Homo sapiens: one gene and its partner. The protein of the gene in region 1 purifies or fractionates together with the protein of each later gene. This does not show direct contact. Each region holds a gene or a part of one and is shown in the gene's direction. Other genes may lie near its edges.

The links.
Region 2: the proteins of HMGCLL1 (region 1) and LSP1 purify together in Homo sapiens (affinity purification with mass spectrometry; one large-scale study listed by BioGRID and IntAct). This does not show direct contact.

Annotation. Positions count from the first base shown.
Region 1 is NC_000006.12:55,572,693-55,576,192, reverse strand, and holds part of HMGCLL1 (3-hydroxymethyl-3-methylglutaryl-CoA lyase, cytoplasmic), read left to right. Parts: intron 1-3,500. UniProt on the Homo sapiens protein: Non-mitochondrial 3-hydroxy-3-methylglutaryl-CoA lyase that catalyzes a cation-dependent cleavage of (S)-3-hydroxy-3-methylglutaryl-CoA into acetyl-CoA and acetoacetate, a key step in ketogenesis, the products of which support energy production in nonhepatic animal tissues.
Region 2 is NC_000011.10:1,880,584-1,884,083, forward strand, and holds part of LSP1 (lymphocyte-specific protein 1), read left to right. Parts: intron 1-848; coding exon 849-1,013; intron 1,014-2,835; coding exon 2,836-2,977; intron 2,978-3,348; coding exon 3,349-3,441; intron 3,442-3,500. UniProt on the Homo sapiens protein: May play a role in mediating neutrophil activation and chemotaxis.

The DNA of each region.
Region 1 (3,500 bases):
GCCAGCAGCTTTTGTTAGACTTCTATTGCATAGTAACCTATTGTAGATAATATGCATTATATATTTATTTTCATGATTACTTGATATTTAATTGCTTTGCAGATATTAAGCATAGTAAAACTAAGGAAGCAATTCACCACGGGATTCTCAACACTTATCAGAATGTCTGGTTAATTTTTTATGGCCAATAATACTTTTTGAATGAACAAATGAATTAATGTTTTCCCTTATAGGCCATAAGCATCACATGCCCATGAAGACCATGGACTTCTTCTTAGCATTTGTTCAAGGTCCAACAAAATGATTGGCACACTGTAGCATCATGATAAATATTTGCTAAGTGAATACAAAATCAGTGAGAATGGGGACATGGTATAGAGTTTGATCTTAGCACCAATCGATGAATATTATTACTGTTTTTCTCTCACCTTTTTGTCTCATAGGACCTCATAGTAGTTTAATGGAGAGATGAGGTAAAAATGGTTTCTGGAGGCTGTCAACACAGCAGAGAGCTTAACTAATTCTCTATTGTTGAATCTGGCAGAGAGAATCATGAATAAACCTGACTCCTGTAATATGAAATAATTTGATTGTAGTTAGAACAGATAGAAAATTCTGTATTTTGAAATAATTATGTGTGTGCAATAGAATATTGAAAACCTCGATATTTTTCTGTTACCAACTTATTCCATGGTTTTGTGTGTGCAAGAGCATGGCCACACCTTAATTTTTCAGCTTACATATTAGAGATAATATATCCCTGATGAATTATTAGACTTAAATTAAATATTGTGTGTATGAATATATACACATATACATATTAGAAGTTTAACAATGTACTATCAAATATAAAAAGAATAAATATGAATGAAAGGCTTATTCTATCACAGGTCCACTAATTAAATTATGTGGGTCTCTGTTTTTGCTAATGACAATGGTTTTGCAGAAAATTCCCTTAATAGACCAAGAGGTTGAAATTGCTCATTCTGTAATTCAAGCTATCTCTTAGGACCTGTTTTATTTTCTGTAGTTGTCTCTGTTAAAAAGAGTATAATGAAGCTGGCTTAATTGGCATGTTTTAAAGTTTTGATTAAATTTAAGTTTCCTAGTGAAGCGATCCCCCTTTGATTTTCAAGTGTTCCTTAAGCAATAACTAAATCTCTTCACATATTAATGCCCTTTTGCAAAAATAAAATTTCCAAAGACCTAAATTCTAATATAAATAATGTTTCAAACCTATTATATTTCTAAAATAAAGTAGTAGATTATGTGAGATTAAATTTATAGTTATTTTACATTCGATTCTGATCCTTTGTGTTACATTTGCTGTCAGCAAAAATTATGATTCAGCGTAAAGTTATTTGGTGCTAAAGGGTCTCTGGAATTTAAATGTATTATATTTCTGCTTAAATGTAATAAGATGATAATGTATCTTTATACTTTTGGCCTGCAACTGTGTAGTTGTTAGTACATTTACTAAATATTTTAGGATGATTGAGGAGGAATTTTCAGACAGGGACCAAACTGCCATCATACTGTTTTCTATTTGTCTCATGTATTCTTTATTTGTCTCCTTACCATTTTTTATTCTTTTCCAGCTTCTTTTGAAATCATGTAGCATTTTAATTTCTCATTTTCCCCCTGAATTGACATGTTAGTGATATACTTTTTTTTACTATACCCTTAATTGCTGTCTATAAGATGTCAACATACAACCGTGGCTTATTAAAATAATATATTAGTACTATTACAACTTATTAAAAATGCAAATATGACTCTTTAACTTCATTTTCTGTCCTCTGCCTTTTACGTTTTTGTTTCTATATACTTATTATCTATATGGTGTATTTACAATACATATGCATACAGTCAATATCCATTTATACTTGTGCACATATTTTCTCTTTTTATTCCTTTCTTCATCTCCATTTTTTCCTCAGATTACTTTCCTTCAACCAGAAGTATTTGTTTCAATATTTTCTTTAGTAAAAAAAGTACTAATATTGATTTTTTTCAGTTTTTCTTTGTTTGAAATTACATACACACATATACACTAATGTATATATATACACACACACATATATGATGTTTATAAGTATAAATGAATGTTTACTATAAACATAAGTTTTATCTAAAAAATTAACAGCCATGATAGCAGTGCAAAATGCAGATTTCTCAACAGATACAGTGGAAGCCAGTTACAATAAAATCAGCGATTTGTCTTATTTTTGGTCCTTTGATGATAATTTATCTTTCATTCTTTTATCTTTGTATTTGGTTTCTAATAGTATTACTATGGCATATCTAGGCATACTTTCTTTTGCATTCATCTGGCTAATAATGTACAACACTTCTTGGATCTATGACTTGATGTTTGTTGGGTTTCATATTTTGGAAGCTTTTCAACCATTTTTGCTTCGAATGTTGTTTGTTTCTTGTTTCCTTTTAAATCTTCTCCAGTTAGGCCTACAATTTGAAGAATATTAGAACTTTCTCTGTGCCTTATTTGTTTCTTACATTCATTTTTTTCATTCTTTCTTTTCTTCTCCGTATTCAATCTGAATATTTTCTTCTCATTTATATTCCATTTCAGTAATTTCTTCTTCAGCTTTGTTTAATTTGCTGTTAATCTAATTTATTGAGTTCTTAATTTCAGTTATTATATTTTGAGTTAAAGTGTTTCTATGATTTCTAAAAGATAGGCTTCAGTTCTCTGCCACAATTCTCTATCATATTATAAATTCTTGAATACTTATTAGAATTATTTTAGATCCCATGTCTGACAACTCCAATATCCAGATCTCCAGTTAGTCTGTTTTATGTATTTTCCTTCCTGGTATGCCTACGAAATTTAAATAATATGTTAGACACCTGGTATGAAAATAATTATAGATGTAATTTGAGACTCTGAATAATACTGTCCTTCTCAGGTGGGATTTCTCTTTGGTGTTATCAAACAATAAGCGTAGAGATAACTTAAATTAAGCTAATCAAGTGCTTACCTGATATGAGGTTTAGCCTACTTTACTTGTAAGGGCTTTACTTTTTTCTCTTCATCCTTACTTTTTGTATTCTGCAGTCATTCAGAGGTCCTAACTAAAACCTAAAATGTTTACCAGGGTTGCTCCTCCTTGCTGAGACCTGAATTCAAACTATTTCCACTCCAGCCTTGCTAGGCTCCTGGAAGATCTGATGGTTTTGGCTTCTCAGTTGCTCATACAGAATTGGCAAATGCCTCAAAAAGAAAAGTTCTGCTGACTGTTGGGCTCACCACTTTATTTTTTTCTCCTGCATAGTATATTGGCTGCTGAAATACTCATTAACCAAATTTCTGAGACTATTAGGTTTTCATTAATATTTTATCCAACTAATATAGTCATTGTCAGTGAGAGGTTTGTTGTGAACAAGCTAGTCAGCCATTATTGAAAGATTATATAATAAGGAAATTAAATTTAAAAATACCAATTGTGCAATTTAGTTTAAATTGTAAAAATATATTC
Region 2 (3,500 bases), on another chromosome or scaffold:
GCTTGCTTCCTCCTTGGGCCCAGGAGGCCTCCGCGGCTGGGCTGGGCTGTTTTTCCAATAATGCTTCCCTTCCTTCTGGCCTCTTTTGTTCCATTTTCTCCAAGTCAGCAGCCTTGGGCAGAGTGGGGTTCAGCGGTCACCATAGTCAGGCCCTTGGCCACCCCCACCAAGGGCCCCAGCTATCCAGGGGCTCCCCCTGCCACATGGGAGGCCTGAGAAGTCGGGGCTTAGGAGGACCTCATGTAGGGTCCTCATGTGGGGACCAGGGCAGCCCTTGGGGAGCCCCAGGATGATGGGGGAGGCACAGCCCTGCCCTAGGGAGCCCCAGACTGATGGGGGAAGCACAGCCCTGCTGTTAGGGAGCCACAGGCTGACGGGGGAGGCCCAGCCCTGCCCTAGCGAGTCCCAGAGTGATGGGGGAGGCACAGCCCTGCTCTTAGGGAGCCACAGGCTGACAGGGGAGGCACAGCCCTGTCCTCAGGGAGCCCTACACTGATCGAAGAGGCACAGCCTTACCCTCAGGGAGCCCCAAACTGATGAGGGAGGCATAGCCCTGCCCTCAGGTAGCCCCAGGCTGATGGAGGAGGCATAGCCCTGCTGAGCCTCAAGGAGTCCTGGACTGATGGAGGAAGCACAGTTCTCAGGCTGCCCCAGAACTGACGGGGGAGGCATAGCCCTGCCCTCAGGTATTCTGACCACAGGAGACACAGCCCAGAGCCAGCTCTGTGGCAGACAGGGTCTCCCACACTTGGAGTCCAGGGCCTGAGCGGGCGCCGTGAGGTGAGTGTGGGCCCTGGGCAGAGGAGGCAGCAGCCGCCCAGGCCTAAGCTCCCCCCTGCTACCCTCAGCCTCAGCCTGAAGCCCTCGGAGGCCCCTGAACTGGATGAGGACGAGGGCTTTGGCGACTGGTCCCAGAGGCCAGAGCAGCGGCAGCAGCACGAGGGGGCGCAGGGCGCCTTGGACAGCGGAGAGCCCCCCCAGTGCAGGAGTCCTGAGGGGGAGCAAGAGGACAGGTGAGTGAGGGCCTCGAGGGCGGGCGCTGGGCAGAGCAGGGCTCCCTCTGGACCTCGAGGGCGGGCGCTGGGCAGAGCAGGGCTCCCTCTGGACCTCGAGGGCGGGCGCTGGGCAGAGCAGGGCACCGCGGAGCTCCCTTCAGGCCCTCAACCTGCGCCTGAGCAGCCACCCCATCCTCCCCTTTCCAAGCAGAGCCTGAAATGCCCCCATGGCCAGGAAAGGGGGAGACAGGAGGGGAGGGAGGAAGAGGGCGAGACAGCATGGTGGCCGGCGAGGGGCCGCGAGGAAACCTCATTCTGGGGCTCCCCAGGGCCCCTGGGCCCCATCCAGGCAGCTGCGAGGCCAGGCCGGGTGCTGCCACATCAGCACACAGCTGCGGCCGCTTCCGTAATGGAGGCTGAGAGCCCGCCGCCGCCCCTTCCTCCCTCGGGGCTGGCTGATCTCCATTCCCACGGAGGGGAGCAGGTATTTCCAGATGTGCATGCCGGAGAGTCGGCCGGGAGGACGCACTTTCCAGATGTGGGGATGTGTGTGCCTGTCTCAACCCCAACAGGCCCAACAGGGGCTGCTCCCGAGCCCCACTTCACTACCCCTGCTCGGGGTCCTTGCCGCTCTCAGTCATCTGTGGCCATGATGGGGCTGACCCCACCCGCCCTGCAGGGCCTGGGCCATCTGGGACCCCAGCCCTGCTCAGGACCCCCTTGCCTTGAGTGGGACCAGAGCCCATGGCTGGGCTGACAGTTCTCCCTGGTCAGGGTCCTTCCTGGCCCCTCTGAGGCCCTAAACCAGCCTGGAGCTCTAGGGACCAGTGTTGCTGAGCGACGCTCCCTTGTCCTCCTACAACCAGGCTCCCACTCCCCAAGAACCACTGGTCCTGGCCTGGCGCAGTGCCCACCGCCCCCCTCCCTGGGCCTCAGTCTCCCCCCTACGTGCTTGGGAGTCAGCGGCTCTGCTTTTCTGAGATGGGGCAGCTCCCTTCTCCCTTGGCCTCAGGCCTAGGCGGGCGAGGCTGCTCCCACCAGCAGGGGGCGCTTTGACTCTTCCGTGGAGCCCAGCTCTGCGGCCGCCACCCCACCCCCTGCACCTGCCTGGCTGCACAGACCTGCTCCTGAATGGCCCCTCTGTGTGGCTGCTGCTGGCTCAGACCCCTGCCCACCTTGGGCGGGTGGGTCTGGGTCTTGGCTGGCACGCACACCCAGGGGCCTGAAATCATGGAAAATTCGAGAATTTCCCATCTTCTCCTCCAGGTTCAGTCCTGCTCAAATGCAGAGCCGCTCAAAGCTGCCAGCTGGCTGGCCTCCCCTCCCCCGCAGCCGGCAGCCCCTTGGCCCTGCTCCTCAGTGACCTGGCCCCTACCCCTGCCTAGCCCTCCAAATGACCCAGCCTCCAGTCCCCCAAACACCCAAGGGCCCCCACAGGGAGCAGAGCAGGAGTGGTGGCCCCAGCAGCCCGGCCTCGCGGGGACCCCGTCAGACCAACCGGGTGTGCAAGCAGCTGCCAAGCTGAGGCCCAGCCACAAAGCTGGGGATTGAACCCAGCCTCAGTGCCTGGGGGACCCTCAGTCTGTAGAGCCCTGTCTGGCAGGGACTGGGCAGTTCCCCAGGGGCCTCAGGCCCTGACACAGGGGCCCAAGCAGACTGCGCTGGCTCTGAGGCCACTGGACCTTCTTTCCCAATGGGCTTGGGTCTCAGATCCCTTGGCACTCAAGTAGCCTGACTACCTTCATTTTACAGATGGGGAAACTGAGGCTTGGAAAAAGGAAGGGGTCAACCAAGCAATCCAATGGCCCTAGAACGGCTTTGCCTCCCTTTCCACCCACAGGCCCGGCCTGCATGCCTACGAAAAGGAGGACAGTGATGAAGTCCACCTGGAGGAGTTGAGTCTGAGCAAGGAGGGGCCAGGCCCAGAGGACACTGTCCAGGACAACCTGGGGGCCGCAGGGGCTGAGGAGGAACAGGAGGAGGTGATGGCTCCACCTCAGAGGGTCTGGGTGTACCCCCACCCCAGGGATGAGTCTGCCTTGGCTGTCTGCACCACTCTGTGGGCCCTGTGGGTCTAGCCCAGAGTGGGTCAGCACCCCACACCCCTAGACCTTGCAGCCCCTTCTGGGCCCACATTCTCAGAGAGGGCAAGGCTCAGTGATCCTCTTGCAAGATCCGGAGACATCTCTCCAGACTCCTCAGTCCCTCCCCACCAGCTCCAGAACTGGAGCACGTCAGGGCCACAGAGAACCTGGGGCTCAGGAAGGAACAGCATTTGTTCCCACAGGTGCTGGGCAGGGCAGGAGGGGCACAAGCAGGGGGTCACTTGGGATGTCTGTTTTTTTTTTTCTAGCACCAGAAATGTCAGCAGCCCAGGACACCCAGCCCCTTGGTCTTGGAGGGGACCATCGAACAGAGCTCGCCTCCCCTGAGCCCTACCACCAAAGTAAGTTAAGCTGCAAAGCCTGCCATCTTCTCCCCTCTCCCGTACTCATACCCAAAAGG